3 linked regions of the Homo sapiens genome follow. The protein of the gene in region 1 interacts with the protein of each later gene in a pairwise test. Each region holds a gene or a part of one and is shown in the gene's direction. Other genes may lie near its edges.

What was found.
Region 2: the proteins of MS4A12 (region 1) and PLLP interact in binary tests that used the Homo sapiens proteins (3 or more experiments, as listed by UniProt).
Region 3: the proteins of MS4A12 (region 1) and MALL interact in binary tests that used the Homo sapiens proteins (3 or more experiments, as listed by UniProt).

What each region holds. Positions count from the first base shown.
Region 1 is NC_000011.10:60,493,213-60,503,036, forward strand, and holds part of MS4A12 (membrane-spanning 4-domains subfamily A member 12), read left to right. Parts: intron 1-4,100; 5' UTR 4,101-4,106; coding exon 4,107-4,382; intron 4,383-7,832; coding exon 7,833-7,970; intron 7,971-8,770; coding exon 8,771-8,827; intron 8,828-9,824. UniProt on the Homo sapiens protein: May be involved in signal transduction as a component of a multimeric receptor complex.
Region 2 is NC_000016.10:57,281,673-57,293,158, reverse strand, and holds the start of PLLP (plasmolipin), read left to right. Parts: upstream 1-8,486; 5' UTR 8,487-8,618; coding exon 8,619-8,753; intron 8,754-11,486. UniProt on the Homo sapiens protein: Main component of the myelin sheath that plays an important role in myelin membrane biogenesis and myelination. Plays an essential function in apical endocytosis. Regulates epithelial development through the regulation of apical endocytosis.
Region 3 is NC_000002.12:110,111,164-110,122,697, reverse strand, and holds the start of MALL (MAL-like protein), read left to right. Parts: upstream 1-6,875; 5' UTR 6,876-6,905; coding exon 6,906-7,010; intron 7,011-11,534.

The sequences.
Region 1 (9,824 bases):
TAAAAATACAAAAATTAGCTGGGCGTAGTGGCAGGTGCCTGTAATCCCAGCTACTCGGGGGGCTGAGGCAGGAGAATCACGTGAACTCGGGAGGCGGAGGTTGCAGTGAGCCGAGATCGCTCCATTGCACTCCAGCCTGGGTGACAAGAGTGAAACTCCATCTTAAAAAAAAAAAAAAAAAAAGCTAATGCTAAGAAAGGTGAATAATAGGTTCAACTGTATGCCATTCCATGAACATGGGCCCAAAAGGACGAGGCCATGCCCCACTGGGCACTTGATGATTATGTGGCTACCACAGGGACAACATAGAACACAGAAGTAATACTGGAGCCCTTGGCTTTGTAACACATTTTAATTAAGGTACTTCTTTCTGACAAGAAAACAATTAAAATTAAAATAGGTAGGGAAAGAACATTCATTTTCACCAGATCAGCATTTTGTGAAAGGTGATATAAGTGTATACCTGTGGATGTACTGGGTGATTTTGTGAAAATGATTCGGTTTCATGTTTTGCTTTATGCTATAAAGTACTCTTGAAAATAATAATCATCTTCACTCTGTCAAAAGTGAAGTTAGCATGAAAATGAGGTAGAAAGAAACTATAAAGAAGTAAATTTTTCCCATTTTTATTTGAAATAATGTAATCACAGAGCAAATTGCTGAGGTTTTCTCTAATTGCTTTAGTCTTATACTTTTGATCTCATCAGAGCTCCAATATTTTTATGTGTTCCTTGTTCTTAAAAATAATTGCAGTTGTTCTAATTCTTATTTTTAAAAAAAGGACAACTAGGGGTAAATATTTTGTCAACTGTCAAGAGAACAATCCTACTAAGTCAATAGGTGGAATCTATAAAAGGAGTCTATTTATTAGTTTCCCTTCTCATGTATCATTTACAGAATTGTCTTCATTTCAATTGAATAATTAAAGAATCAGAACTGGCTGGCTCTGTCTTTAATTCCTTTTATAAAACCAGAACTTGACCCAGTAAAAATGTATTCTGAGTCCTAATAACTATAGACCTAGCCATGAATAATCTGGGTTCTATGTGAAATTTACAGATCTTAGTCCAGAAACTAAACAGCAGATATGAAAGGAGAAACTGTTGATAAATAAATGAAAAGTATTGAGTTTTCCTCATAAAATTTCTCGAGACAAAAAAAAAGCAATGATCAACAGCAAAGGAGAATGTAATGAAATCATATACATGCAGAAACGTGGACAATTCTTTAATTGTATGCTTTTTAAAAGCTCAAAAAAATTCTTGTTCTGGTTAATTACTGTACTCTGAGTACCCATCTCCTATTTCTTTGCTCTTGAAATTGACCCTGTTCAATTCCTTTTATAAACTTTTCCTATGGCCACATCCACTGCCTAAAACAAGATAGAATACCTTGGGATCTAATAATAAAATAATAGTTCCTTTTTAAGCTCTTGCCATGTGCTAGGCACTGTTCCAACAGTTTTGCATAAATTAGGATAATTTGAACTTTAGACTAGCCTCCTTAGGTACCTTCTGTCATTTTACAGTTGAGACATAGGAACTAACAGGGATTTCATTAAGAAACTTGCTTAAAGTCCCAGACTTAGTGAAGTAGCAGATTGAAGATTAGAAAAGAGGGCTTGAGCAATATTTGGCCACCGAAACCAGATCCATAGGATGTATAACCTCACATTCTCAAATGCTATTGAGAGTTACGTGGTGTTACTCCAAGAGTCACAGCTATGGACTTGTTTCCTTTTTCCTTGTTTAAAATAAACTTTTGTGGGCTCAAATGTGTTTACATTTTTTTTTTTTTTGAGATGGAGTCTCGCTCTGTCACCCAGGTTGGAGTGCAGTGGCACGATCTCGGCTCACTGCAAGCTCCACCTCCCGGGTTCACACCATTCTCCTGCCTCAGCCTCCCATGTAGCTGGGACTACAGGCGACCACCACTACACCCGGCTAATTTTTTTTTTTTTTTTGTATTTTTAGTAGAGACGGGGTTTCACCATGTTAGCCAGGATGGTCTCGATCTCCTGACCTCGGGATCTGCCCGCCTCGGCCTCCTAAAGTGCTGGATGTGTTTCCATTTTGAAAAAAAAAATTCCTCTGTAATCAGATATTTCAGAAAGATGTTTTCTCCCTTTTCATTGAGTTTTCAACCATTTTCAGTTGCATCTAGTATCGGAGGGTAAGGGTTATGAGTACAGGTTCTGGATTAAATTCTCTCATTGTGAAATGGGGATTTTAGTAGAGTACCTATCTCATGGGGTTCTGTAAAGGGTACAGAGATAATGTATCTCATGCACTTAACATAGAAATAATAATAGAGCCAACCCTGTAATCGGCACAATTCCACATACTTTGCAGAGAATAACTCTTTAATACTCAAACTGACTCTCTAAGGAAGGTAGTCTTATTAGCTCTATTTTACAGACAGAAAACAAAGGCAAAGAGAGGTTAACAAACTTGCCAAAGACACAAAGTTGGAGTTAGATCCCAAGTTCATGTTCCTAAACATGACACTATACAGACCCTACTGTGCCTATAATAAGTCTTTAATAAATGTTAGCTCTCTATACACCTCACCTAAAGCTTGCTAAAGAGAATCCTTACTAACTCACTCAATCACAAAGAAGTTAATCCGGTTTATAAACTCCTCTCCATGGCATCAGAAGACAGAAGTTTTGTTGTTGGGTAGTTGCAGGAGCAGAGTCAATACCCTGTCACCAAGGCTGGCCTGGAAAACAAGCTGCAAATGTCCAGAGTGATGCTGCATGGAGGGGGATTCTGAACCAACAGCCAAGAATCCCATTTTCAAGTCCTAACTCTGCCACATGTTTTCTGTGTAACCTTGAGCATGTCACTTAACGACTCAGCTTCAATTTCTCATCTGTAAATCAAGGGGAATGAGACAGGATAAATGGAAAGGGTCTTTTCTACCCTAAAATTTCTGGATTCTATGAGCACAGGGTCTGCATATGTGTCCTTGTTAGATACCAGTGATACATTGTACCAATAGGTTATTCATAGTATTCATACTTCATACCAAGAATGAGACATTCATCACTCTAACTTTCTTGATATTCATAAGCACAAGAAAATTGTTGTGCTTTTGAAGACCTCAAAAAAAGGAATCTAAGGCTAAAGACAAATTTTTTAAGTGTCATAATTTTTTTCAAGAATTAATAGTCATTGTTGTCCATATTCAGTTGTACTGGCTTATTTCCAACAAAATTTCCCTTGCCTACATGGGGCCTGAGATGCTCTAAGCTTTCAGAAGGACAGAAATGAATAAAAGCATTTTTCCTAAAGAACAGAAGAATCATCTTAAGTGGGCATATGTGAACTATCTAGTTTCCCAATTACTGGCAAACAATTTTAATCTTGGACTGCCCTCCTTGCCATACAAGTATTGTATTACTTGGCCCCTGTATTAGTTTTCTATTTGTTGATATAACAAACTACCACAAATGTAGTGGCTTAAAACAATATAATTTTTTTATCTGACAGTTCTGTAGGTCAGAATTCCAATACCAGCTCACTAGACTAAGTTCAAGGTGTCAGCAGAGTCATGTTCCTTCCTGGAGACTCTAGGGAAGAATCTGTTTCCTTGTTTCATCCAGCTTCTAGAGGCGACCCATACACCTTGGTTCATGGACGCCTTCCTCCAACTTCACAGTTGGCAGCATAGCATCTCTCTAATGAGGGATGGTTTCAGGATGAAACTATTCCACCTCAGGTCATCAGGAATTAGAGTCTCATAAGGAGCATGCAACCTAGATCCCCAACATGTGCAGTTCACAGTAGGGTTCATGCTGCTATGAGAATCCAATGCCATGCTGGTCTGATAGGAGGCAGAGCTCAGGCAGTAATGCTTGCCTGCTGCTTACCTCATGTAGTGCAGCCAGGTTTCCAACAGACCACAGACAGGTACCAGTCCTTGGCGTGGGGGTTGGGGACTTATGAGAATCATGTTTCTATCAGTTGTTATGGCCCATTATCTGCTCACTTGTTCTCTCCATTTGCATAGATAATTGACATTTGACATTTGGTAAGATTTTCTTTAGTTTCTTTTCTGGATAAACGTATCACTTTTGTATGTTTTGTGATACTTAGGACATAATGATGTCATCCAAGCCAACAAGCCATGCTGAAGTAAATGAAACCATACCCAACCCTTACCCACCAAGCAGCTTTATGGCTCCTGGATTTCAACAGCCTCTGGGTTCAATCAACTTAGAAAACCAAGCTCAGGGTGCTCAGCGTGCTCAGCCCTACGGCATCACATCTCCGGGAATCTTTGCTAGCAGTCAACCGGGTCAAGGAAATATACAAATGATAAATCCAAGTGTGGGAACAGCAGTAATGAACTTTAAAGAAGAAGCAAAGGCACTAGGGGTAAGTCTATTTACTACCAGAATTTTAATTTCACATTTGCAAGGTCTTCTTATAAGTTATAGGAGAGTATCATCCAATTGCTAAAAAGTTCTGAACGTTATTCTGAAATTATCTCTTTTAGACAGAAATATTTAGTCTGCCTATAGACTTTCCCTTGAGTTCATTTCATTTTAGATCAAGCAAAAATATAACAAGACACAGAGGAGCCTCCCTAGCTGGAGAATTTGGTAATATTGACGTGACAGAAGCACTGTTACATCTAGCTTGATCTCATTTCTTCAAAGGACTTTTTGGACAATCTCAATCCCATCTCTGGATTAGTTACAAGTCTGGTTTTTGCATAAAGGTGAATTTACATAACAATGAACAATGATGGCTGCCCCCAGAAAAGGAAACTACAAATGGGCAGTCTGGGAAAGGCTGAGTGTGAAAGAATTGGGGGACATTCCATCTGCTATGCCTCTTTCACCAATACCCTTAGAGATGCTACAGTTTAACTGTCACCTTACTTCTACAAAGGAGACTCTGAACTGACTGCCTTGTTTCTGTAGGCATTGTAAAAACAAAAATGCCCTACTTGTAAGAAAATTCCACCTGCCTAGGTAGAATTGTTAGTCCCTTCTCCGTGCTTTCCAAATACATCATTCATCCCGCTAGCACAATTCCACCAAATTATATTAAGTCTCTCCCTGTGAATAGCTCAAAATGCTCTGCTGGAGCATTCCGTAAATGAATGCTCATTATGTGCCAGAAACTCTTCTAGCCATCTTACTATGTATTTCAAGTTGTGATGTTTTAGGGAAGTAAAAATGAGCATAAGTTCTCCTGCAGCAGCCTATTTACTAAGCTGTGGAGGTGGCCCTTCTGATCCTCCTCCTCCCAGATAGAGGAAATTCCCTGCTCCTAATAAGCCAATGGGACAAACTAACACCCCATACAGCCAGCCCCACACAGGTGCTTGGAATATCATTAAGCACAAAGGAGGTGCAATCTCTGCCCTCACAGAACTTACGCCCTAGAGGGGGAAATCAGACTGTATACATAATAAGGAAGTAAAGTACTTAGTGTGTTAGAAGGTGTCGAATGATATAGACAAAACAAAGAAGTGTAAAAGGGCTAAAAAGTACTAGGCAGTGAGGAGGCAGCAATTTCAAGGTGGTCAGAATGGGCTTTCCTTAGAACATGACATTTGAGCAAAAACCTGAAGTTAGGAGTGAGCCCTGCAGATATTAGGGAAAGAGAAAACAACCAGTGTAAAAGTCTTTAGATGAAAATGTCTTTGAGGTATTTGAAGAACCGGGAGGAGGCCAATAAAATAGAACAGAATGAGTGAGGGAGGGGGCAGTTGTCAGGAGGGCAGATGAGTGGCAGAGGCCACAGGTGGTGAGGCCTGCAGAGCAGAAGGCTTTGGCTTTGACTGGGTGGATGAGGAACCACTGAAGCATGCTGCCCGGCACCGAAGAGGCGTGTGATAAAAATACTTTAAAAGAATGTGAAGTTTTGTTTTCAAAATCTCCAGTTGGCAGAAGCTACTTCCTCTCTCTGAAGATTTGTTATTTCTATGCCATCAGCAGGCCCTGGGCATCATGACAGTGCAGGGGCCACAGGTGGCAGGACTTGGCACACCTGTACCAGTCAACTCAGACCTTAAAGTGCTTCTGTGGCCAAAAATGCAGACAAATTGTATGTCCAAATTTTTAAGTCTGTCCTATAGGCAATTTTGATCAGTAGATGGTACAGCCAGGGCTGTAGGAGGAGAAATGAGGGCCAGTACAAATCCAGATCTAACTGCCCCTCATCAAGGTGACAGCAAGGATGAGAATGGGAAGTTTGTGACCAGACGGCTGAATTGCTGCTCTAAAGAACAGTTGTAAAAACCAAATATAAAGTCTAATACAGGAGTTCTTTAAGTGAGATAGGCTAAACGTGGCCCATCATCTCTCTGAAGCTATAAGCAAAAGTATGGTATGTGTGTGTATGAATGTGCAAGAATAATTTTTCAGGGAGAAAGGTTCATGGTTTTTATTGATGTCTCAAGAAACTTTTAGCATTGTTTATGAAACTGGGTTTTTTTCTAATTTTAATTCGATTTACTTGTGTTCAGTAGCTATTTATTGAAGAAATAAATACAGCAGTCTTTGTATTTGCAGTCTCCCTGGATAGATAAGATGTAACCATGGGGAAAAATAAATTACAAATCTACAATCAAGTTTTGGACCAATCTAGAAATGATTATTCCTCAGAAATCTATCTTTATTTACAATGAAGGAAGGTTCAATAAGAGGTACAAGGAGGTAAAAGATGTATACCTTACTTTTAGTAATATATGATTGATAAGAAGAATGATTGGTAAGAAAATGATTGCATACCTGCAACTTTTTAAAAAAGGACAATATACACTTTGGGAGGCCAAGGCGGGCAGATCAAGAGGTCAGAAGATCCAGACCTTCCTGGCTAACCCGTGAAACCCCGTCTCTACTAAAAATACAAAAAGAAATTAGCCAGGCATGGTGGCGGGAGCCTGTAGTCCTAGCTACTCGGGAGGGTGAGGCAGGAGAATGGTGTGAACCCGGGAGGCGGAGCTTGCAGTGAGCCGAGATCATGCCACTGCACTCCAGCCTGGGCAATAGAGCAAGACTCTGTCTCAAAAAAAAACCAAAAAAAAACAAAAAAAAAAACAATATAAATGAATCCAAAATCAAGTAATAAGGTGTGTTTTATGTCATGAGATGCAACTGAAATTCAGAAAGAAAGAAAAAAGATTAATTTGGTGTAATCAAGAAGACTTCATGGAAAAGGTAGAGCAGAGCTGAGCATGGGGGAAGACAGTACCGAATAATTCAGACAGGCTCAGCAGTCAATGTGCTGCAGTAAATTCCCAGATCTGCCTCTTAGGAATTGTGTGACCTTGGATACCTGATATCTTTATGTCTCTGGGACTCAATCCAGTTGTAGGAGGATTACATGAAACAATAAATGTAAAGTGTTCAGAACATGACCAAGCACATAATTCATGCCTAATAAATGGTTTTATCTTCACCAATTCCTTTACCCGTAACTGGGATGACCCAAGCAGAGAACTGATCCATCTGAAAAAGCAGCTACTGACATCACAGTTAAAGTATTGTTTTTCTAATAGTCTTTTAGAGGCCCTCAGAGATGCTAATGCATGATTAAGCAGCTGTACTTTCTGAAGAATTCTTCTTGGGCCACCCCAGTAAATTCTCCAAATACCTCAAAACAGGGCGTTTCACTAAGGGCCTTGCACTCCAGTTATTCTAGTATATGTCAGAATCTTCATGACCCACCTCCTGCTTCAGATGTGTGCCTGAATGACAACGATGGATCTCAGCAAAATTGACAATAAATAAGCAGGGGCAGCAATGACAGTAATGTTTCACACGTCTGAAAGTGAAGAAGTAATTTTAAATGGCTGTTTTCTTTTTTCAGGTGATCCAGATCATGGTTGGATTGATGCACATTGGTTTTGGAATTGTTTTGTGTTTAATATCCTTCTCTTTTAGAGAAGTATTAGGTTTTGCCTCTACTGCTGTTATTGGTGGATACCCATTCTGGGGTGGCCTTTCTGTGAGTAGATTGCTAGAACACCAGTCCTTCTTGGTTTATAAAGTATTCCCTCTTGGTTTATAAAGTATTGCTATCTCCAGCCAATTCACAACTCATTTCTTGATAAAGCCCTACATCTGAGGGCTGGAGAATTTAGAAAAATTAACAGCTCTGAATGAGGGCTGGAGAATTTAGAAAAATTAACAGCTCTGAATGAGCATGAAAAAATCGGGAACTCTTTCGCCATTTTACCTAGGAGCTTATTCCATTCTTTAAAATTTAATCATGTAATCAGCAAGCCAAAGTTTTGATATCCTACTACATTTGAGATGGAAATGTATGTATTGGGTGGAGAGAGAAAGAAAAGAAAAGGTGATTGGAAACATGATTAAAAATATGCAAGTAAGCCAGGCATAGTGGTGTGTGATTGTAGTCCCAGCTACTTGGGAGGCTGAGGCCAGGGAATTGCTTGAGTTCAAGAGATGGAGGCCAGCCTGGGCAATATAGTGAGACTCAATCTCTAAAAAAATTTTTTAATTAAAAAAATGCAATTGATTATGAGAAGGGATGGAGCAGTAAGCCTCAGAACAAGGAATGCTTAAACATTGTGAGTTCTTCATAGGCCAGAAATTAAGGAAAAGAAAATAAAAAAGAAGTCAAGGACATATGACTGAGAGTTACTCCAGAAAATTCAGAAGTGCGAGAGAAAATTTTGAGAAGGAAACTAGATGAACATAAATAGACCAACCTTTCATATAAAGAGAAATTCCCAAGCACAACCAGTTAACCCATTTCACAAATAAATTTGTCCATTTCCACAGTTTATTATCTCTGGCTCTCTCTCTGTGTCAGCATCCAAGGAGCTTTCCCGTTGTCTGGTAAGTTAGACTGTCTCTACTTTTTGAACCCCTTTAAAGATTAGCTTAACATATTGGGGAGGAAAATTGAAAAGCTGGATTTGGGAAATGCAAAAGGGAGCACCTTTCCCAAAAAAAATCTATTGGTTGCCTTATGGTCTGAGCGCTGGGGTGAGAAAATGGTCCACACAGTTTGCCACTAAGAAATGGCAGAGCTCCATATCCTGACTCTTGAATTCACAAAGGTGAGAAGTAGTAAAAATCAGGGTTGTTTAAGCTTTAACCTAAAAGCTCCCTGGTTCAGTCTGGTCACACTCTATTATGGGAAGTCCAAAGGAGAATCCAGGAGCCAGGAAATACATACTAGACACATCAGTTACCAAGTCTCTACTGTTCATTTGCCACTTCTCAGCTCTGTCTTGTATTTTTATTTTTTTATTTGTGCTATTTCCTACTCTTACACAGGTTGTGTGTTTTACAATTCTTTAAATTGCCATTAAATGAGTCTAGCTTGTTCTGTAAGAAGAGTTTATAAAAATGATGAGTAAGACAGGACTTTGAGCTCTGTCGGTCACAGCACCCCACCTATTCCAATTTCGTGGTCTACTATTGAACCAGGAAAAAGAAAGTGATTTATCAAGAACTAGAGTCAACTAGAGCAGAGGTGGTGTCAAGATTATATGTAATCCAGTACAAGAAAGAAGAACGGGGAAAGAGGAACACAGAATCATGTAGCTCATGCTCTTGCAGACAAAAGAAGAATAAAATAATTAAATCAAATTAAAATAAAATAAGCCTAATTCTGATTAACCACTCCTGTTGCAGTCCAAAAACAAAATAAAGCACCCTTTCTCTGCATCTTTTAAGGATCCTTCCGTCTAATTGAGATTGTCGAAGCATAGATTCCACCTCTTAGAGGAGACAGCCACTGACACATACCTAAGACAATTTTTCTAAGAGCTTTTAGAGAACTTCAGGAGGCTCTAAGGCACGCTGCAGCACAAGCACATTCTAAAGA
Region 2 (11,486 bases), on another chromosome or scaffold:
CAGCCAAGGGAAATGGTGTATAGGGAAGGGGCTAGGAAAGTTCCAAACCTGGAACCTCCATTATCCTCTCCCTGTGGAATCAGGGACAGCGTTACTTTCCCAGCATCAATGTGTGACAATGTGCACAGACTATTGCCACCCTAGTAAACTCACTGTCTTGGTGTCTAGAGTCTTTATTGAGGTCCCATCATGCAGGCAGGGTTGACTGCCCAGGTGGCAAATCTCAGACTCCAGCTCCTCCTAAGGTCCAGCTATGTGGGTCCATATCTTGTGTCCCAAAGCTTCCACCCTAAGCCACACTGTTCGGTGACCTGCTGCAGCCAGACCCCAGGCTAAACCACATTGTTAGACTATCAGGTGTGGCCAGCTCCACCCTAAACAATGACTATCAGATATGACATTCCAAGGGTTTAGAGGTCAACACCCAGAGGCTGAGCACAAAAGCTAGATCTTGCTGGGTAGGTGGTTCACGCCTGTAATCCCAGCACTTTGGAAAGCCGAGGCAGGCGGATCACGAGGTCAGGAGATTGAGACCATCCTGGCTAACACGATGAAACCCGGTCTCTACTAAAAATACAAAAACTTAGCCGGGCATGGTGGCGGGCGCCTGTAGTCCCAGGCAGGAGAATGGCGTGAACCCGGGAGGCAGAGATTGCAGTGAGCCGAGATCGCGCCACTGCACTCCAGCCTGGGTGACAGAGAGAGACTCTGTCTCAAAAAAAAAAAAAAAAAAAGCCCTCAAAACTAACTAGGAAATGGGGAGATGTAGGTCAAAGGGTACAGAGTGGCAAACATGTAGGATGAAGAAGTGGAAAGACCTAATGTACAGCATGAGGGTTATAGTTAATAACAGTGTGTTGTATTCAGGATCTTTGCTAAATGAGCAGATTATAGCTGCTCTTGCCACAGGGAGGAAAATGGGTACCCATGTGAAATGATGGATATGTTAGTTTGTTTCACTACAGTAACCATTTTACTCTATATGTATCTTACAACATATTGTATATCTTATATATACACAATAAAATGTATTTTAAAAAAAAAGGAACCATTCCCACAGCACCAAGCATAGGGCCAGTTGGAAAAGTACTCAATCAATATTTGTTGACTGCAATCAGCAACTCGTTGAAGTTGGCTTTTGGAAGCTGTTAGATGAACTCCCATGGGAACCTTTCTGTGAATTTCTTAAAATTGTAAAAGGCAGAGTGTGATGGCTCAAGCCTGTGCTCTCAGCTCTTTGGGAGGCCGAGGCAGGATGATTCCCTGAGGCCAGGAGTTCGAGACCATCCTGGGCAACACAGCGAGACCCTGTCTCTACAAAAAATAAAAAAATTAGGCCAGGCGCGGTGGCTCACGCCTGTAATCCCAGCACTTTGGGAGGCCAAGGCGGGTGGATCACGAGGTCAGGAGATCGAGACCATCCTGTCTAACACGGTGAAACCCTGTCTCTACTAAAAATACAAAAAAAAAAAAAAATTAGCTGGGTGTGGTGGCGGGTGCCTGTAGTCCCAGCTAGTCGGGAGGCTGAGGCAGGAGAATTGCTGAGGCAGGAGAAGGAGGTGGAGGTTGCAGTGAGCTGAGATCGTGCCACTGCACTCCAGCCCCGGCGACAGAGGGAGACTCCATCTCAAAAAAAAAAAAAAATTAGGCCTGTCGCCAAGGCGGGTGGACCATAAGGTCAGGAGATCAAGACCATCCTGGCTAACACAGTGAAACCCCATCTCTACTAAAAATACAAAAAAATTAGCCGGGCGTGGTGGCAGGTGCCTGTAGTCCCAGCTACTCTGGAGGCCGAGGCAGGAGAATCACTGGAACCCAGGAGGTGGAGGTTGCAGTGAGCTGAGATTGCGCCATTGCACTCCAGCCTGGGCAACAGAGTAAGAGTCCGTCTCAACAACAAATGGTAAAAATAAGTTAAAAATAAAAATAAAATAAAATAATTAGCTGGGCATGGTGGTACACGCCTATAGTTCTAGCTACTGGGGAAGTAAAACTGGGAGGATCACTCGGGCCCAGGAGTTCAAGACTGCAGAGGGACATGATCATGCGATTGCACTCCAGCCTGGGCATCAGAGTGAGACCCTGTGTCAACAACAATTGTCTTTTTTTTTTTTTTTTGAGACAGAGTTTTGTTCTTGTTGCCCAGGCTGGAGTGCAATGGTGCAGTCTCAGCTCACTGCAACCTCTGCCTCCTGGGTTCAAGTGATTCTCCTGCCTCAGCCTCCCAAGTAGCTGGGATTACAGGCATGCACCACCACACCCGGCTAATTGTTTTGTATTAGTAGAGACAGGGTTTCACCATGTTGGCCAGGCTGGTCTCAAACTCCTGAAATCAGGTGATCCGCCTGCCTTGGCCTCCCAAAGTGCTGGGATTACAGGTGTGAGCCACCACACCCAGCTACAACAACAATTGTAAATCTAATAGTGTAAATCCTTCAGTGGTTTAAGACCCAAGTGATCTGACTCTTGGCTGCCTGTTGAACCTCATCTCTCCCTATCTTCCCAACTCTTATCCCTCGGTGCTTCCTCAGAGATCTCAAAGTCTTCCCTGACTCAGGGCCTTTGCACAGAAGGCAGTTTTCCCTGCCTGCAATGTTCTTCTCCTGTCTGATTCTTGTTCATCCTCCAGGTCTCTGCTAAAATGTTTAGACCTTCCTTGACCCAGTTATCTAAATGACAACTCCCAATCCTCAGAATTACTCTCTCCCCTGGCTCCCTGCCCTTTTTCTGTGGTGACATCATCACTACTGGTGAGTTGCTATTTCTTGGTGGGTTTGTACATCTAGACTGTCTGTCTCCCCCACTAGACTCCTTGAAGGTGGGGGCCCTCATCACAGCTCACAGCTCCATCCCCAGGGCCTGGCACTCCCGAGGCACACACTAAACATCTGCTTCGTGCCTGAACCCCCACTGCTGAGTAGCTGAGTAGCTGGGGCCACAGCTGGGCAGGCCCAGTACGCAGTGGGGATAAGGTCAGAGCAGGGAACTTTTGTAGAACTGGAGAAAACTGAGGCAAGACATGTACTGCAGGTATCCCGTGTGGAGATAGGCTGCTCAGAGCCCGGGAAGGGGAGGCCGGTCCTGGCAGTAGACAGGCTGTCTGTCCCCCCACCCCATCCTAAGAATCCAGGACCCCGTGGCGCCAGCGGAGACTGTGGGTGGGCAGCTGGTTCCAGTCTGGGGACAGGTTCCTTCCCACTTTTTCTGACTGGGGGGCGAGTGAAGTTGGTTTGGGAGAAAATGTCAAAGTGAAAAACAGTGGAGTGATTCAGTCTTTTCAGTCTTGCTTGCTGCCATTTGAAAAGAATGAAAGTGGGATTAACAAAAAAAAAAAAACCCACAAAATCCAAACCAAAACCAAAACAAAAACACCCTACTGTTTTAGAATCTGCCTCAGAAACAATCATCTTTTTGTTTTCTGTGTCACAATAAAATTAAGGGCTCACCCGAGCTTTGTTCTGCACTTGGACTTGTCTGCAGAGAGGCTGGTCTCTGAGTAACAATTTTGCAGCTACCAAGAAGACTCCTCATTTCCAGAGCACCTACTGCAAGTGGGGTGCTGGGACAGGGGAAGGGGCTCAGGTGCATTGAGGGGAGGGGGTTGAACATCCCGTTGAGTAAAGGGTTAAGTCAGCATCAACCAGTGATATTTTTAAAGTGTTCATCAGAGCTTGTCTCTCGCCTGCTTAAAACACTCCAGGCCTTGGCCGGGCGCAGTGGCTCACGTCTGTAATCCCAGCACTTTGGGAGGCCAAAGCAGGCAGATCACGCGGTCAGGAGATCGAGACCATCCTGGCTAACACGGTGAAACTCTATCTCTACTAAAAATACAAAAAATTACCCAGGCGTGGTGGCGGGTGCCGGTAGTCCCAGCTACTCTTTGAGGCTGAGGCAGGAGAATGGCGTGAACCCGGGAGGCAGAGCTTGCAGTGAGCTGAGATCACGCCACTGCACTCCAGCCTGGGCGACAAAGCGAGACTCCGTCTCAAAAAAAAAAAACACTCCAAGCCTTAAAATAAAATGTTAGCCCTTCTCCATCATTGTGGTAGGCTGTATAATTGCCACTAAAAGATGTATCAGTGGCTCATGCACTTTGGGAGGTCAAGGCAGGAGGATTGCTTGAGCTCAAGTTCGAGACCAGCCTGGGCATCATGGTGAAACCCAGTCTTTACAAAAAATTGGTGAGTCATGGTGGCTCAAGGACCTGTGGTCCCAGCTACTCAGGAGGCTGAGGCAGGAGGATTGCTTGAAACCTGGAGGCGGAGGTTGTAGTGAGCCAGGATGGCACCACTGCACTCCAGCCTGGGCAACAGAGTGAGACCCTGTCTCAAACAAACAAACAGAACAGATCCTAATTCTTGGAACCTGTCCATTTTACCTTATAAAGTAAAAAGGTCTTTACAGATTAAGTGACTAAATTAAGATTCTTTTTCTTTTTTTTTCCTTTTGAAACAGGGTCTTGCTCTGTCACCCAGGCTGGAGTGCAGAGGCAAAAACATGGTTCACTGTAACCTCAACCTCCTGGGGCTTAAGCAATCCTCCCACCTCAGCCTCCTAAGTAGCTGGAACCACAGGTGTGCACCGCCACGCCCGGCCAATTTTTTTTTTTTTTTTAGAGACAGGGGTATTTGCTGTGTTGCCCAGGCTGGTCTCAAACTCCTGAGCCAAACCCATCCTCCTGCCTTGGCCTCCCAAAGTGCTAGGTTTACAGGCATGAGCCACTGCGCCCAGCCTCAAATTAAGATTCTTTATTTGAGGAAAACTATTCTGGAGTATCTGGGTGGCCCTAACACAATCACAAGTGTCCTTATAAGAGAGGCAGAGAGAGATGTTATACATACAGAAAAGGAGGAGGCCATGTGACGTAGGAGGCAGAGACAGGGTTGATGCAGTCATAAGTTGAGGAATGCCAGCAGGCCCCACCAGGGTTGGAAGAACAAGGATGGGATTCTCCTCTAGACTCTGCAAAGGGAGCATGACCCTCAGGACACCTGATTTTGGCTCTTCCCAAATTTTGGAAGATTTTGGCTCAGTGAAACTGATTTCAGACTTCTGGCCTCCAGGACTACAGGAGAGTAAATTTCTGGGTTTTCTTTTCTTTTTTTTTTTTTGAGACCGTGTTTCACTCTTGTTGCCCAAGCTAGAGTGCAATGGCTCAATCTCAGCTAACTGCAACCTCCGCCTCCCGGGTTCAAGTGATTCTCCTGCCTCAGCCTCCTGAGTAGCTGGGATTACAGGCGTGTACTACCACGCCCAGCTATTTTTTTGTATTTTTAGTAGAAACAGGGTTTCGCCATGTTGGCCAGGCTGATCTGGAACTCCTGACCTCAGGTGATCCACCTGCCAAAGTGCTGGGATTACAGCCGTGAGCCACCGTGCCTGGCCAAATTTCTGTTGTTTTAAGTCACCAAGTTAGAGCAGCCACAGGGCACTAATACAGTCCTCTAAATAGCCTGTGTGATCCGGCCCTGGCCCGTGTTGCCAATCTCACCCTTACTCACTTGGCTCTAGCCCTACCAAGGACCTTTTTCTGTTCTCAAAACTGGTCCAGCCTCAGGGCTCCTGCACTTATTAAATTCTTCCCCCAGAATTCCCAAGGCTAGCCCCTACTCATGATTTGGGTCTCTGCATAAATGTCACCTCTTCCCACAGGTCTTCCTTGACCACCTTAACCCAGAAATCACCTGTGGGTGACTCTGTGTCACATTCCCCCATTTTACTTTAGTCACAGCGTTTGTCACTATCTGAAAGTATTATTCCTCCCGGGTTTATTACTTCTCATCCCCACCAGACAGTGGGATCCAACGACTGAAATCCTATCATTTGTGGCAACACAGATGAACCTGGAGGACATCATGTGAGTGAAATAAGCCAGGCATAGAAAGACAAACACCACGTGGTCTCTCTCATATGTGGAATGAAATAAAGAAGTTGATCTCGGCCAGGTGCAGTGGCTCACGCCTGTAATCCCAGCACTTTGGGAGGCCAAGACAGGTGGATCACCTGATTTCAGGAGTTTGATACCAGCCTGGCCAACATGGTGAAACCTTGTCTCTACTAAAATTACAAAAAATTAGCTTAGCGTGCTGGCGGGCGCCTGTAATCCGAGCTACTCAGGCAAGAGAATTGCTTGAACCTGGGAGGCGGAGGTTGCAGTGAGCCGAGGTCGCGCCATTGCACTCCAGACTGGGCAACAAGAGCAAAACGCCATCTCAAATAAATAAATAAATAAATTGATCTCATAGTAGAGTAGAATAGTGGTTACAGGAGGCTGGGGTGTAGTGGGAGGATACAAAGAGGTTGGTTAACAGGTACAAAGTTACAGTTAGGGCTGGGCATGGTGGCTCACACCTGTAATTCCAGCACTTTGAAAGGCCAAGGCGGGTGGATCGCTTGAGGCCAGGAGTGCGAAACCAGTCTGGGCAACATGGAGAGACCCCATCTCTACAAAAAAATTTAAAAAAATTAGTCAGGGCTGGGCCCAGTGGCTGATGCCTGTAATCCCAGCCCTTTGGGAGGCCAAGGTGGGCGGATCACAAGACCAGCCTGGCCAACATGGTGAAACCCAGTCTCTATTACAGATACAAAAAATTAGCTGGGCATGGTGGCTCGAGCCTGTAATTCCAGCAAGACTCCATCTCAAAAAAAAAAAAAAATTAGTTGGGCATGGTGGCGTGCACCTGTAGTCCTAGCTACTAGGGAGGCTGAGGTGAGAAGATCACTTGAGCCTAGGGGTTGGAGGCTGCAGTAGGCTATGATCATGCCACTGCCCTCCAGCCTGGGTGACAGAGTGGGACCTCGCCTCAAAATAAATAAAAGTAAAAAGAAAAAAATACCAATATTGTACATTTCTTTTCTTTTTTTGTTTTTGTTTTTAGATGGAGTCTGGCTCTGTCACCCAGGCTGGAGTGCAGTGGCATGATTTCAGCTCACTGCAACCTCTGCCTCCCTGGGTTCGAGTGATTCTCCTGTCTCAGCCTCCTGTGTAGCTGGGACTACAGGCACCCACCATCATGCCTGGCTAATTTTTTTGTATTTTTGTAGAGACAGGGTTTTGCCATGTTGACCAGGCTGGTCTCAAACTCATGACCTCTGGTGATCTGCCTGCCTTGGCCTCCCAAAGTGCTGGGATTATAGGCGTGAGCCACAGCGCCTGGCCCTAATATTGTATATTTCAAAATATGGTAGCTAGAAGTGGGGATTTTGAATGTTCTCACCCCAAAGAAGCCATAAATGTATGAGGTGATGGATATGCTAAGTACCTTGATTTGATTTTTTTACACAACGTACACAGGTACCAAAACATCACATGGTACCCCATATTTAGGTACAATTATAGGTTGCCGAAAAAGTAATTGCGGTTTTTGCTATACTTTTATATGCAAAAACCGTATAACTTTTGCACCAACCTAATATTACATGTCAGTTAAAAACAATTTTTTAAGTGGCTCTCTTTTTAAGTGGGTATTTGGGAAAAAAAAAATGTGGGAGCCAAGAAGGCCTTGTCTACTTCGTTTCCTGCTGTATCCACAGGGCCTGGCATGTAGTAGGTGTTCAGCAAACATTGGTTGATGAATGCATGATGACCTATCTGTGCAAACCTCTAGGCTCAAGAGGTGTGTGTGTGTGTGTAAGTATTTTAGGGTGCATGTGTGGCAATGAAACTGTATATGACCTCCCATCTTCTGAGTGACCCCTCCTCCCTCACGCTGTCAGGAGCTTTCTGGGGAATATTTCATTTATTCCCTACAACGCTCTGTGAGGCAGGTTTCCTTCGTATCTATATGACAGACGAGGAAACTGAGGCTCCGCGATCATCTAAGTTATATAAAATATGTTCAGAAGTGAAAACAGCATTAATAGGCAGAAAAGGACCTCCCCCTTCTACCGCTTACCCACCGCTTACCCAGACCCTCCCCTTCCCCGCGCTGGGTCTCCCAGGATTCTTCTTTACTTTCTTTTCTATAAAATACAGACGGGGGGAGGGGGGGCGTCTCACTGTGTTACCCAGGCTGGTCTCGAACTCTTGGCCTGAAATTATCCTTTCACCTTAGCCTCCCAAAGTGCTGCGATCAGAGGCAGGAGCCACCGCATCCAGCCTTCTCCCGGGACTCTTCAAGAGTCGCTGCGCCGGGGCCTAGGCCGAGGGTGCACAGCGCGTAGAAAGCGCCTGGGAGAGCGGTGTCCCCCGCGAGCTACCACAAGTTTATCCCTAGGCGCGGAAGCTACCACGGCCTGGGCGAGAGCCGGGAAATTCCCAGCGGGCGGCTTGCCCCGGGGGAGGCCGGCGAAGCGGTCTAGGCTGGTGCTGGCGGAGCCGATTCACGGACCCGGGGTTGTTTACTGGTCCGGGGAGTGGACGCGGCTGCCCACGAACCGGTCGCGGCTGGGGCGGCGGCGGCGAGCAAAGGGTTAAGGGGGCGGCCCCGGCGGCGGGGGCGGAGCCGGGATCTCGGCCGCACCTGGCGCCCCAGGCTCCCAGCCCCGACGCCTCCTGCAGCGCCTGGAGCCACACAGGGATCCGGAGCCTGGGGGAAAAGCGGCGCGGGAGCCGGCACCCACCGCTGGAGGGGCGGCGACGGCGGCCGTAGCGACCTCGGGAGGCAAGCGGAGCCGCCATGGCCGAGTTCCCGTCGAAAGTTAGCACGCGGACCAGCAGTCCTGCGCAGGGCGCCGAAGCCTCGGTGTCGGCGCTGCGCCCGGACCTGGGCTTCGTGCGCTCCCGCCTCGGGGCGCTCATGCTGCTGCAGCTGGTGAGAGCACGCGCGGGCCCACGGGGTTGGCCGGGGGCTCCCGGTCCGGCCAGGATGGGTGAGGGACTCCGGCGCTGCGTTCATTTTTCGCGAACCTTGCGCTCCCCACCCGGGCTCACACTGTCACCGACGCGCTGCGCGTACCCCTAGGGCGCTTCCCGCACGGACGCCCCCAAGATCGCCCTGCATCCCTCTCACCACGACACTACCCCGTGGCCGTCGCTGCGAGCGTGAGCACCCTGCACCGTGTACAGAGTGCCCACTGCCCGTGCCCCATCGTGCCCCCTCCAAGGTGGTTACCAGCGGCCACAGAAGCCCCCACCGGAGCCACAGTCACTGCGCACAACCCGCCAACCCTTCCCAGCCCTCCCTTCCCTCCTCTCTCTTTTTCACCCCTCTTTCTGCCCGGACAGTGCCCCCAGCCCTCTAGGGAACCCAGTCTGAGGCAAAGTCCACTCTCTGACCACCTTCTGTCCCGCTCCCAGCGGCTCCGGGTGGCCGCACCCATGAACATTCCTCATCTAATCTAGAGGGCACATCCGACTCCCCAACACGCACACTCAGGCACTACCCTGTGGGCGCCCGCGCGGGAGCCGGGCTCTTCTAGCTTTCTCTGGGTGACCCGCCAGGTTTCAGCCGGTTTAGCCAGCCCCACGGGACCGAGATATCGCTGGAGGGAGGGGTTTGTGGGTAGCCAGGGGCAAGACTCCTACTCTCTCCCAGACCCCTGTACAGACCCCAACTGAGGCGGACCCATGGGAACATCCTCCACTCCCACACCAGCCACAGGCCCGGATGTTAGCTTCTTCCTCTGCCACCCTTTCGTGAGGGTCTGGAAGCTGGGTGGGTGCCCTGGGTGGGTGAGGGCCTGATACATTTTCAGAGGACTCAGGTGGAATTGGAGTTGGGCCAGGACCTGTATTTCTTAGCAATCCAGCGAGTGGACATTTCCCATTGTCTCCTATTGCTGGGTGCTAGCGCTGCTGCGAGGCCCAAGCTAGAGGGCAGGGTGGTTGCTTTGGTGCCAGACCCTGGGCTGAGGTCCAGTCTCCCTTCCCTGACCTCTCCAGGTGCGGGCCCACCTCTACCTGGGTCAGTGCTATCTCATTTCAGGATTTCTCAGATCTCTGTGGGCCCCCTCCCCAACCTCTGAATCTCCTGGCGGGTTTGTTTAAAATTTAGATTATTGGACTCCACCCCCGGAAAAAAATGTGCAATCGGAATTTGAATCTCAGGAAGTACAGCCAGAAATTCATTTTTAACAGTTCTCCCAGAGTTTTTTGTTTGTTTCTCTTTTGGGGGGTGGGGGAGAAGGGGAGAAGATTCTGTCTTCTGAGGGAAGAGGTCTAGTTCCTGGAATCATTTAATTCTGCAGATGGGGAGAGCCACTGACCCCGCCACCGCTAGAATGCTCTGCTCTGGGCTGGTTGTGAGGGGCACAGCCATGAGCAGCTGCCTGGCTGCCCAGGGGAGAGCCAGGTGGGTGTGAGAAGTGGTGCGAAAGGGCAGAGGAGAAGGAGAGCAATTTCACGACCAGGAAGGCTTGTTGGAGGAGGTGGTTTTTGAGCAGAGACTTCACTGAAATCTGAGGCAGACGCAGGGAAAGGGTGTTCCAAGGGCAGGGAACAGTGTGAGCCAAGATGTGGTGATGAGAAAGTTGAATTAATTTGCAGGGAGTAGCCAACAGGTTGGTGGTGCTGGAGTTGAAGCACTTGTTTCTGGTGTGGACAGAAGCCAAGGGCCTTGTGTAACTTCTGCGAGCTACAGGGTCTAGGTTCTGTTGGTGGCCTTAAGAGGTTTTGGAACAGAAGAGGGATCTTGCTGGGTGGAGGATGATGACTGGCAAGATCCCTGTGAGGGATCCCTCAGCATCCCTGGTGAGGTGGATCCTGAGGCTGGCCCCTGATGGACAGGAGGATTGCTTGTGGCCAGAAGTTCAAGACCAGCCTGGGCAACATATTGAGACCCTGTCTCTACAAAAAAAAGGAAAAAAAAAATAGCCAGGCATGGTGGTATGCGCCTGTGGTCTCAGCTACTTGGGAGGCTGAGGTAGGAGGACCCCTTGTGCCTGGGAGTTTGAGGCTACAGTGACTTTGATCGCACCACTGCACTCCAGCCTGGGTGACAGAATGAGACTTTGTCTCAAACAGACAAACACACACACAAAAAAAAAAAAAGAAAAGAAAAAAGAAAGAGACTAGCAATAGGGGCAATAGGGGGAATGGAAGGCATTGGAGTAAGAGGAGGATGTTGCTGCTGTGGGCCGCAAGGGTCTTGGTAGCTTCCTCTAGGGCAGGCTTGTGTTCCTGATTGGGGTTGGGATGGGTGGGGGCATCCCCTGTGGCCTCAGCAATCCAGCCCTGCGCATCTGGGTCCCATTACACAGACGTAGACATTGAGGTCTAGTTAGAAGGACTTGCCAGGAGTCCTGTAATAGAGCTTGGCACTTGGGTCTCTTGACTCTCAGGGACTGGGTGTGAGGGAAGTGGGCTCCTTTTGCTCCCTACCTGCAGTGCCTTTGAGGGGATGAGGGTCTTCCATCAGAGTTCTGAAAATGACCTGCACATTTTAGTGCCTTAGAAATCTGCTTGTTGGGGCCAGGTGTGGTGGCTCACGCCTGTAATCCCAGCACTTTGGGAGGCCGAGGTGGGCAGATCACGAGGTCAGGAGACGGAGACCATCCCGGCTAACAGGGTGAAACCCCATCTCTACTAAAAATACAACAAAATTAGC
Region 3 (11,534 bases), on another chromosome or scaffold:
AGTTCTGGGCTATCTTAGCTAACTTATCCTAAACCCTTAACCTAAATTTAACTTGAGCCCCAGTCTCAGAAATTAACATGGTATGAAGGTGTTTCCAGGCCAGGCGCGGTGGCTCACGCCTGTAATCCCAACACTTTGGGAGGCCGAGGTGGGTGGATCACCTGAGGTCAGGAGTTTGAGACCAGCCTGGCCAACACTATCTGTACTAAAAACACAAAATTAGCTGGGCGTGGTAGTGCGTGCCTGTAATCCCAGCTACTTGGGAGGCTGAGGTAGAAGAATTGTTTGAACCTGGGAGGTGGAGGTTGCAGTGAGCCAAGATCGTGCCATTGCACTCCAGCCTAGGCAACAAGAGTGAAACTCCATCTCAAAAAAAAAAAAAAAAAAAAAAAAAGAAAGAAAGTGTTCCCAGCCACAAATGTGACAAGTGAGAACTGGGCCTTGGAAAAGAGATTTCATTCTCCAGGAACTCATTTCAGGAGATCTCTCCCTGTGCGTGCCCTTCTGCCCTCAACCACACAATACAAGGCTGAGTGTGGCAAACACCTTCCTTTTGCCCATCAGCTGCCTGGGCACACTTACAAAGTGGTGCCCCCACTTCTCTAGCACCGCGGCCCTCCCCAGCTCCTGCTCCCAGGGAGAGGGCTTTGCCTTTCAAATGGAGGTGGTAAGTGTGCACAGAGACTTTTTGCTACTCTGTTACTGAGTTGCCTCCTCTTACTCTTAGTCCCCTGCAGTCCTGTTTTTGAAAGAACATGAGCCCATATCACTCCTCACTGTGAAAGTCATTTCTCTGTAGAAATGACTTTTAATTTCTAAGCTCCACCTTTTTATTTTTTATTTTTATTTATTTTTTGGGCATTTATTTATTTATTATTGATTTATAATTTCTAAGCTCCACCTTTTTATTTTTATTTATTTATTTTTGAGGCATTTATTATTTATTATTATTTATTTATTTTTATTTATTTATTTATTTCTGTCACCTAGGCTGTAGTGCAGTGGTGCAGTCACAGTTCACTACAGCCTCAACTTCCGCGGGCTTAGGTGATCTCCTACCTCAGCCTCCTGAGTAGCTGAGAGCACACACACGTGCCATCATGCTTGGCTAATTTTTGTGTTTTTTATTGTAGAAACAGGGTCTCACTATGTTGCCCAGGGTGGTCTCGAACTCTTGGACTCAAGCAATTCTCCTGCCTCAGTCTCCCAAAGTGCTAGGATTTCAGAGCCACCATGCTTGGCCATCTTTTTATTTATTTTTTTTAAGCATTTGGCTTATTCTTAGCGTTAAGCCAGGGGTGGGGCATTTTGAGTGAAAGAAAATGCTAGTGAATTTCTTTCAGTGCATGTACAACATGAAGGAAGAGAAGGCTTTTTATTAGAATGCATTTTCCAAGACTGTCTTCCACGTTCATTTGAGAATGTGTCATGAGCTGACAAATATGGACAACTTCATAGTTTCTGACACATTAGGAAATCATAGGGACACCAGAGAAAAAGCTTAAGTGAAGCTTAGGCCAGAAAGTGAGGTACATAACGGAAGGGAGAGACCCAGGGGTGTGGGCATTTCTGCTATTAAGAGACTCCACCTTCTCTTCAATCAGTGGAATCTTTTTTTTTTTTTCAAACAACAAAATCTCTGTGACTTTAAATGCCACTTACTGGCTTCCACAACGGAAAAGGTTGTCAAGGAGCCAAAAACATCCTGGAAATGAGTCCTCGTGGGTCTGTCTCAAGGAGTGTGACTTTAGCAACTCACTGAATTAATTGTAAGAGTCATGGTGGTGGGGGGCGGGCAGCAGCAGGGTGAACAGCAGGTCTTTGCCGAGTGACCACACGTGTGGTGCCTACCTCCAAGGCCAGGGGGACTCACCACACCCGAACCATGGGAGGGCGGCCAGGGCGGGGAGTCTGAACTGTGAACTACATGGCTCACTCCTCCCCACCCTCCCAACCTCTTAATTGGTTGAGTGTCATATCCATCAGGTCTGCAGAGGTGAAAAATGTTGCAACTCGCTTGCCTGGGTGCTTGGAATGAAAGTCTAGGGGCAGAGGCAGATATTAAAGAGCAGGTATAGTCTCTGTCTTCAGTGTTTGTGATCTAATGCGCAAGGCCAGAGCAACTCACATAAAACCAGTTGACATACATAACCCTGTGTACAAATGGAGCAAGTTTGACTTGCCAACCCAGTAGCAGTTGGGAAACTATCAGTTTAACAGAGGAAGCCAGCAGTGTCCTCTGCCAGTTGAGGGCTTTGTCAATTTACAGCATTATAGGATATCCTTTGCTGTGAACTGCCTCAGCTTCCTCTTGCGTGAAGCATTCTAAGTTGGGAGGCTTTCTTGGGGTGTGGAGGTGATCAAAGACAGCTGTCACCTAGCTGCTGTGATCTGTTTCCTCAAAACAAAGAGGCAGAGAAAGAACCTTACTTAGGGCACTTTGCATCTAAGTGTTACAATTATCCATTCATCATTTACTCAACAAGTGTTGAGCACCTGCCATGTTCCAGGCACAGCACTGAGCTTTGAAGATACAGTGAGAACAGTCCTGGCAAGATCTCTGTCCTTACAATGCATGAGGTGGACAGTAATCAGCCAAACACAAAAACTAATTCCAACAGTACTATGGTTGGGGCTGTTAGTGGCCCCGTGGCAGGCATGAAGTCAATGGTAAGTGTACAGGCATTCCTTCCTATCCTCACTCTCCCTCTCCCAACCCCACTGTCTGTTGTTGGGGACCAGTTAGATTCAAATACCTTTTCAAATGAATCCCTCACTATTTGAACTCCCACATTTACTCTCTGAAACTCAAGGACACGTGGATTTGGTAATACTGTATCCCTCAAAACTCAAACTTGCTCTCTGAATTCTGATATTTGAATGCAGTAACCAAGTCAATTTGGATAAAGAGGGATGGGTATAAAGATAAGTGAATGGGCCAGGCACAGTTGCTCACACCTTTGGGAGGCCAAGGCAGGCAGGGTGCTTGAGCCCTGGCATGCGAGACTAGCCTAGGCAACATGATGAGACCCCATCTATACAAAAATTAGCCGGGTATGGTGGTGCAGGTCTGTAGTTCCAGCTACTCAGGAGGCTGAGTTGGAGGATTACTTGAGCCCAGGAGGTTAAGCCTGCAGTGAGCTGTGATCATGCCACTGCACTCCAGCCTGGGCAACAGGGAAACCTTGTCTCAGAAAAATAGTAAGTGAATGGCAAGTGAAAGTCTATAGGTTATACTGTCTCATAGGCAGGAAAATGGAGGTCGAGGATGTTCTGCTCAGTGATGACTGATACTGAATGAGGCGTGCAGGTCTGTGTGCAGCAATATAAAACAGAACTCATTAATGGAATACAGCTCACATTTGGGACTTTGATAGTGTGCCTGTCATTTAGCCCTTTTCTGATACTCTGTAAGACAGACTGGACCTTAACCTGCTCATTTGTATCTGACTTTGCCAGCAAAGATTAACTTTGCAGAACTGTGTCCTTTCGAAGAGGCCATTTTGGGGAATAAAAAGGTCTCCATGCTTTCTGAGCTCTTCTCCAGGTAGGAATCTCTGGATGACCCAGACATTATCCCATTGAGTCCTTCCTCTTTCCGGGCAACTGTTCTGTACTTGCCCAACTCCAGAGACACAAGAAGCCAGACTCAATTCTGCCTCATGGCTACGAACATTAATCACAGCATCTTCCTGAGTCTATCAGTGTGTGCATTCTATCTACCCCATTTGAGAGTTAAAGAGACCTTGATTTGTAGAAATAATAGTTGCAATCTAGTTGTGTCTAGCAGGCGAGAGCCAGTGGGACATGTGTGTTCTTGCAGCAGAAAAGGGGAGAGCTCTGCTCCTATTTCTACAGTGGGAGGCTACTATAGTGGACATCTGGTGTTTCTGCTGCTCAGCCTCCATATACTTCTCTCTTGGTAACGTCACCTCCACCTTGAGTGGCATTGTTCAAGTCACTGGATGAAGTCTCACCCGAAGCCATTATTACCTCTTAGCTTCTCACTTCCTAAAGTAATACGTTCCTTTCATCACTAAAGCCATTTGGAATGGGTTTTTCTAACTTTTGTTATTGAAAGAATCCCAATGGATACAACTGTCTATTCTTTCCCCCCAAGTATCTCTGGATTTCTTCTGGCTTCTCTCTTCTTTTTCATGCAACTAGTAAATTGTTTCTGAAATATAGATAAAGCAATTTCTTAGTGGGAAAAGAGTTTAATAAATAGGAATCAAAAAAAGAGAGAAGCAGTTGTCTCCAAAGTCTTTATGACTGTTTTCATGACTGTTTCAATCATTTAAAAACATTTATTGAGTACCTTTTGTGTATCAGACAGTATTCAAGATGGTGGACATGGCTGTGGTTCACCACATGAACAAAGTTTTGGCTCTCCTTAAGCCCACATCCTAGAGAGGGACAGGGGCAGGGAGACAAACAATAGGCAAATTAATCAATCAGGGAAATCTTGGGTAGTGAAAAGTGCTTGCAGAGTTAAGCAGGATGTTGCTATTTGGGCTCTGGTCAAGTAGAGAAGGATACTCCTCCTCTTCCTTTCATGAAATGCAATTAACAGCCCTGGACAGAATGCATGGAGAAGCTAACTGAGGATTCTAGAAAAAAAAAAAAAGGAGCAGGAATATTTGGGAAGGAAACCAGAATTCAAAACACTACTAAGCTGTTGGTGAGTTTCCCATTTTCTTTCCTCTGGTACCTGTCAGCCAGCGTCAGAGACCACCTGAAACCCAGAACTGTACACAGGATGCAGACAAAGACATCTCCAAAAGAATCCATGTTTCTGGTCTGAGGAATGGGAAAGAGAGCCCCAAACAGTCAGAGAGAGTGTAGAAAATCTCTGTTTTTTGTTTGTTTGTTTGTTTATTCTTTCCTTCCTTAGCCCCTGTGCAATCTCGTGACAGTGGTGGTGGCAATGGAAGTAGCAGCCAGGCAGGTACCTGGAACTCTGAGAAAGGGGAACCTTTGTCTCTGATCAGAGGAACCATGATCCTAAAAGCATGGGGGGAATAATTTTCACATTTGTGTTTCTCTCTCTCTCTCTCTCTCTCTCTCTCTCTCACACACACACACACACACACACACACACACACACACATTGCTTTGGTCCTGAAGATAGACCCAGTCAGAAGAGATGCACAGCAGAGAAGGAAAATGAAAACCCTGGTCTTTAGCCAGAAGACCAAGGCATATCTTCATTTCTTAATATACTAATTGCTTCAGAAGGTGGAAATGGCTCAGGGCCTCTCAGCTTAAGAGACTAAGGGGTTATGGGTTGTATTATTTTCTCCATTTCATAGATATGAGCCTAAGAAGGTTGTTTTTCTTCTTACTTAAACTTTTCCTACTATGCCATGTTGTCCATGGGCAAGTCAAAGGTATCCTACAGCCTGTAAGAGTGGCACAGTGCTTATTTGCAACCTTTAAGAGAGGTGGCAAGATGTGGGATTCATGGAGAAATCTCTCCTTTGCTTGGATTAATCCTGTAAACAAGGTGGTGTAGGTGAGACTGGGGTTGGCAGGTGGGATTAGGGTCTCCCTTACTTCCTAGTTTCCGTAGCCTGGGAAAAAGGGATGATCAGTCTGGTTTGAGATCCACTGGGGGGTTCATTGCCTTTCTTTGCAATGCCTTTGGTCTTAGCTTCATTTGTCCAAACTCCTCTCTCCCTTGGCTCTCCCCAGACCAGGCAAAGGCCAAGCTGGCTGGTCTCCCCACCTGTGGCCCTGAGGGCAGGACCTGGCATTCACCGTTTCTGCTAATGAGATCAAGACATGGCCTCTTCTAATTACTCCAGCCCTCACACAATCTTCCCCACATGCTCTCCACACCAGGGAGCAGCAGGGGGCAGGAAGAAGGGACCCTAACCTGGAGCATCCTGAGCAGACTGTTTCAGGGCGGGTCGGGAAAATGAAGGTTCGCCAATTCAAAGGTGGAGGGGAAAATGGTTCAGCCTTTGGGACTTGTATTTGGTGTGAAAGGAGTTGCTTGCCTCTGGGTCACAGCCCTGCATTCAGCTCCCTGACTTGCCTAGGAGTCAGGAAGAAACTTCTTGGTCTCAAGCCCAGTTAGGGGCAAGGCACTGGCTGGAAGGAAGGCCAGGGAAGGAAGGAGGTTGTCCACTAGAGGCAGCAGCCAGCCAGCCCAGCCCTTCTCTGGTGCCTGCCGGTGTGGTCCTCTCCCAGAGACTGGGGGGCCTTCATCTGCCCCATGAGGAAAAGAGGAGTGGAGGACCATGGAAAGGGATCCAGAAAAAGAAGGAAACACCAAGTCCCAGGGGCATGAGCTGGAAGGGAGGGCTGCTCCTCCCAGGGGAGGCTGGGGACTGAGAGCTGTCCCCAAGAGTGGAAAAGGAGGGAGCTGGGCAAGACCCAGCATTGTTAGTAACCAGCTCTGTGGTCTTGACTTGACCTCACTGATTCTCAGTCTCCTCACTTGGAAAAGGGCAAAACAGCCACGTGCAGGCCGTGGTGGGCACCCGGGCTGTCTGCAGATAGCTTGGCTCATTGTTGGTCCTCAGTACGCAGCCCTCGTAGCCAAGCAGCTTGGGCCTACACTCTGGGCCCAGGGGAGTGGCTGTCGCTGGCATCCCCTGGAATAACATGCTCCGGGGGTCAAAGATTCCTTAGCTGGAAAGGTCTAGGAGGAGACTCCCGCTCTGCTCCCTCCTGCACCAGCGCTGTGCCCCCCGCCGGCCAGGCAGAGCCATCCGATGCCGCTGGGCCGCCCACTGAGGATCTGCTGGCTGCAGCGAGTGGAAGGACCTGCTCGGCTGGAACGTTTTTTTTTTTTTTCCCTCCCAGGCGACGTCCGATGGGTGTGTCGGGCAGGAGGTGATATTTGACAGGCTGCGCGCGGGCGAGCTGCCGCGGAGCACCCGGCAGGGGCTGACAGCATGGCCTCGCCCGACCCGCCCGCCACCAGCTACGCCCCGTCCGACGTGCCCTCGGGGGTCGCGCTGTTCCTCACCATCCCTTTCGCCTTCTTCCTGCCCGAGCTGGTGAGTGCGGCACCCCCGACCCGGGCCACCTGCAGAGAGGGAGGGGGAGACCGGCCTCGGACCCAGACCGGACCGAGAAGAGAGAGACCCAGACCGGACCGAGAAGAGAGAGGGGCAGCAAGCACAGGGGCCACCTGCAGAGAGGGGGGGGGAGACCGGCCTCGGACCCAGACCGGACCGCGCCGAGAGAGACCCAGACCGGACCGAGAGCGGGGAGCGAGCACAGGGGCTGCGGTGGCTGCCAGCCTCCCACCGGGCGCACAGCGGGGCGCAGCTGTACTCAAGAGGCAGATGCCACTCGGTGCCCCGTCTTATGCCGCCAAGGGGGTTCCTCCCTCCAAAACAAAACCCACTTGAGTGTGGAGGCCTGGGGGGACGTCGCTAAAATATCCAGGCTTCCCAGGGAGATGTTGCACATGAATTTTAATTACGCGGCTTCTTTTGTCCAACTATTTGTGCCTTTCTGGTTTGAAGTGAGGAGACTGTGTTTCCCTCTGAGAGTAGGTCTTCCAGTGTTTTCTTAATTGTCACGTCCGCTGACTTTGAACTTTGACTTTTGTGGGGTCTCCCACACCAGGTAGCTATGGCAACATCTGCCATAAAACAGTCGTGTGCGGCACCCTGGTTGCAAATGAGAACCTGTCGCTGTGTTACTCTCTGGGGCGCCCTACGACTGAGTCGTGGCCCTGATCCCTGGGGATCCTGCCTGCTCCCATCTGCAGAGCTGTGCGTATGCAGCGTTCCGCACTGCACAAGTTCCCTCGGAACTGGCTGGTACCACATCCTCTTCACGGAGGAGCACAGTCAAGCCTGGGGTCCAATCAAGGCAAAGGAGTGTTTTCTTTTTCCAGCACCTTCTGAAGTATCTAGCTTGTGGGTGGTATTTTCTTACCTGCCCTGAATTTGGCAGTGCTGTCCCTGAGCAGGGGGGAAAAGATAGAAAGTGCATCTACTTTTCAGCCCTTCTCATTCTCGTCTTCTGCTTGCAAAGTTGGGCCCCCTCAAGCCACTTTTAGGCAAACTGGCGAACGGGTTAGCCATTGATGGCGACCAGAAAGAGAATCAGGCAGGGTGGGCCTAGGATCTGAGTGGCTCCAGCTGAAACCCCACCTAAGAGGCAGGTTTCTGCCAAGGCTACCATCCCCAGCACAGCGTGGGCATCCTGCCAGACTGATGACATAACCGTGCTCTGATGAGTCCTACGTGCCAGGCCCTGGGTGTGCCCCTCACCTTGGAGCAGCTGCATGGGTGGCTGGGGTACTGGTTGACTCTGCCTCTTTTTATTGAGCCTGTGGTTCATGTCAGTCCTGCAAGCCCCTGGTGACAGGGCACTGCCTCCTGGTGGTTTCCTGTCTGCCGGGAAGAGACTCATGAGCATTTCCTCCCAACAAGTGGATGGTGGCCTCAGCAAGGAGGGACCATCTGAACTCTCCAGGCCAAGGAGGGGTCCAGGCCTGCCACCAAGAGTTGGACCTCAAAGAACAGGCATTTACAGGCTGGGGGGAAAGAGAGGGAAAGGCCTAGAGGCCAGGGGAGAAGTCCTGGAAGGAGGCTAGAGGCACGGAGTTTCTGGAACCAGGACAGCACCCAGGGTGAGAAACATGAGAGGTCATGTTGGCCGCACCTGCCCTGCTCCTGCCAGTGAAACTCCTGGAAGAGCAAAGTGCACGCTGGTGTTGGGCTCTGGGGCCTTACGTGTTGTGGGGGGTGAGGGGCTCAATGACAATCAAAATTCACATTGGCCCAATTTTCTTCATTTATTTGTACTGTTAAGTAACGTGAGATTTACAGTAAAGCTGCAATAATAGTAGAGAAAGTTCTGTGTACTCTTCCCTCAGCTGCTGGTAATGCCTGCATCTTCCGTGGTACAACTCTTGAAATCAGGAAACTAACACTGATACTGTGCTATCAAGTACTCTATAAACCTTACTCCAGTTTTGCTAATTTTCTCACTAATGTCCTTTTTCTGGTCCAGGATCCCACATGGCACTTAGTTGCCGTATCTCCTTCATCTCCTTTAATTTGGGAAAATCTGGGTCCTTATCTTGACACTTCTGAAGAGTACTGATTAGGTTTTTTTCTTTTTTTGTGCTTTTGAAAAATTTATTTTTCCATAAATTATTGGGGTACAGGTGGTATTTGGTTACATTAGTAAGTTCTTTAGTGGTGATTTGTAAGATTTTGGTGCACTCATCATCCATGTATACACTGCACTACATTTGTAGTCTTTTTTTTTTTTTTTTTTTTTTTTTGAGACAGAGTCTCGCTGTCGTCCAGGCTGGAGTGCAGTGGCGCGATCTTGGCTCACTGCAAGCTCCACCTCCCGGGTTCATGCCATTCTCCTGCCTCAGCCTCCCGAGTAGCTGGGACTACAGGTGCCCCCACCATGCCCAGCTAATTTTTTTTTTGTATTTTTAGTAGAGACGGGGTTTCACTGTGTTAGCCAGGATGGTCTAACTCCTGACCTCGTGATCCGCCTGCCTCGGCCTCCCAAAGTGCTGAGATTACAGGCGTGAGCCACCGTGCCTGGCCCATATTTGTAGTCTTTTATCCCTCACTCCTCTCCCACTCTTCTCCCCAAGTCCCCAAAGTCCACTGTATCATTCTTATGCCTTTGTGTCCTTATAGCTTAGCTCCCACATATCAGTGAGAACATACGATGTTTGGTTTTCCATTCCTGAGTTACTTCACTTAGAATCATAGTCTCCGAGCTCATCCAGGTCAGTGCGAATGCTGTTAATTCATTCCTTTTTGTGGCTGCATAGTATTCCATCATATATATGTATATATTTATATATATACATATATATATATATCACAGTTTCTTTATCTACCCATTGATTGATGGGCATTTGAGTTGGTTACACAATTTCACAATTGTGAATTGTGCTGCTATAAACATGTGTGTGCAAGTATCTTTTTTGAATAATGACTTCTTTTCCTCTGGATTGATACTGAGTAGTGTGATTGCTGGATCAAATGGTAGTTCTACTTTTAGTTCTTTAAGGAAACTCCACACTGTTTTCCATAGTGGATGTACTAGTTTACATTCCCACCAGAAGGGTAGAAGTGTTTCCTGTTCACCACATCCACACCAACATCTATTTTTTTTTTGATTTTTTGATTATGGCCATTCTTGCAGGAGTAAGGTGGTTTCACAATGTGGTTTTAATTTCCATTTCCCTGATCATTAGTGATGTTGAGCATTTTTTCATGTTTGTTGGCCATTTGTATATCTTCTTTTGAGAATTGTCTATTCATGTCCTTGGCCCACTTTTTGATGGGATTGTTTGTTTTTTTCTTACTGATTTGTTTGACTTCCTTGTAGATTCTGAATATTAGACCTTTGTCAGATGTACAGATTGCGAAGATTTTCTCCCACTCTGTGGGTTATCTGTTTACTCTGCTGTCTGTTCCTTTTGCTGTGCAAAAGCTCTGTAGTTTAATTAGGTCCCAGCTATTTATCTTTGCTTTCATTGCATTTGCTCTTGGGTTCTTGGTCATGAAATCCTTGCCTAAGCCAATGTCTAGAAGGGTTTTGCCAATGTTATCTTCTAGAATTTTTGTAATTTCAGGTCTTAAGTTTAAGTCCTTAATCCATCTTGAGTTGGTTTTTGTATAAGGTGAGAGATGAGGATCCAGTTTCAATCCCCTACATGTGGGTAGCCAATTATCCCAGCACCATTTATTCAAAAGGATGTCCTTTCCCCACATTATGTTTTTGTTTGCTTTGTCAAAGATCAGTTGGCTGTAAGTATTTGGGTTTATTTCTGGGTTCTCTATTCTGTTCCGTTGGTCTATGTGCCTATTTTTATACCAGTATCATGCTGTTTTGGTGACTATGGCCTTATAGTATAGTTTGAAATCAGGTAGTGTGATGCCTCCAGATTTGTTCTTTTTGCTTAGTCTTGCTTTGGTTATGTGGGCTCTTTTTTGTTCCATATGAATTTTAGAATTTTTTTTTCTAATTCTGTGAAGAATGATGGTGGTATTCTGATGGGGATTGCATTGAATTTGTAGATTGCTTTTGGCAATATGGTTATTTTCACAACATTGATTCTACCCATCCATGAGCATGAGATGTGTTTCCGTTTGTTTGTGTCATCTGTGATTTCTTTCAGCAGTGTTTTATAGTTTTCCTTGTAGAGGTCTTTCAACTCCTTTGTTATGTATATTCCTAAGTATTTTATTATTACTATTATTATTTTTTGCAGCTATCATGAAAGGGGTTGAGCTCTTGATTTGATTCTCTGCTTGGTCGCTGTTGGTGTATAGAAAAGCTACTGATTTGTGTACATTAATCTTGTATCCAGAAACTTTTGCTGAATTCTTTTATCAGTTCTAGGAGCTTTCTGGAAGAGTCCTTAGAGTTTTCAAGTTAAACGATCATATCGTCAGCAAACAGTGACAGTTTGACTTCCTCTTTACTGATTTGGATGCCCTTTATTTCTTTCTCTTGTCTGATTGCTCTGGCTAGGACTTCCAGTACTATGGTGAAGAGGAGTGGTGAGAGTGGGCATCCTT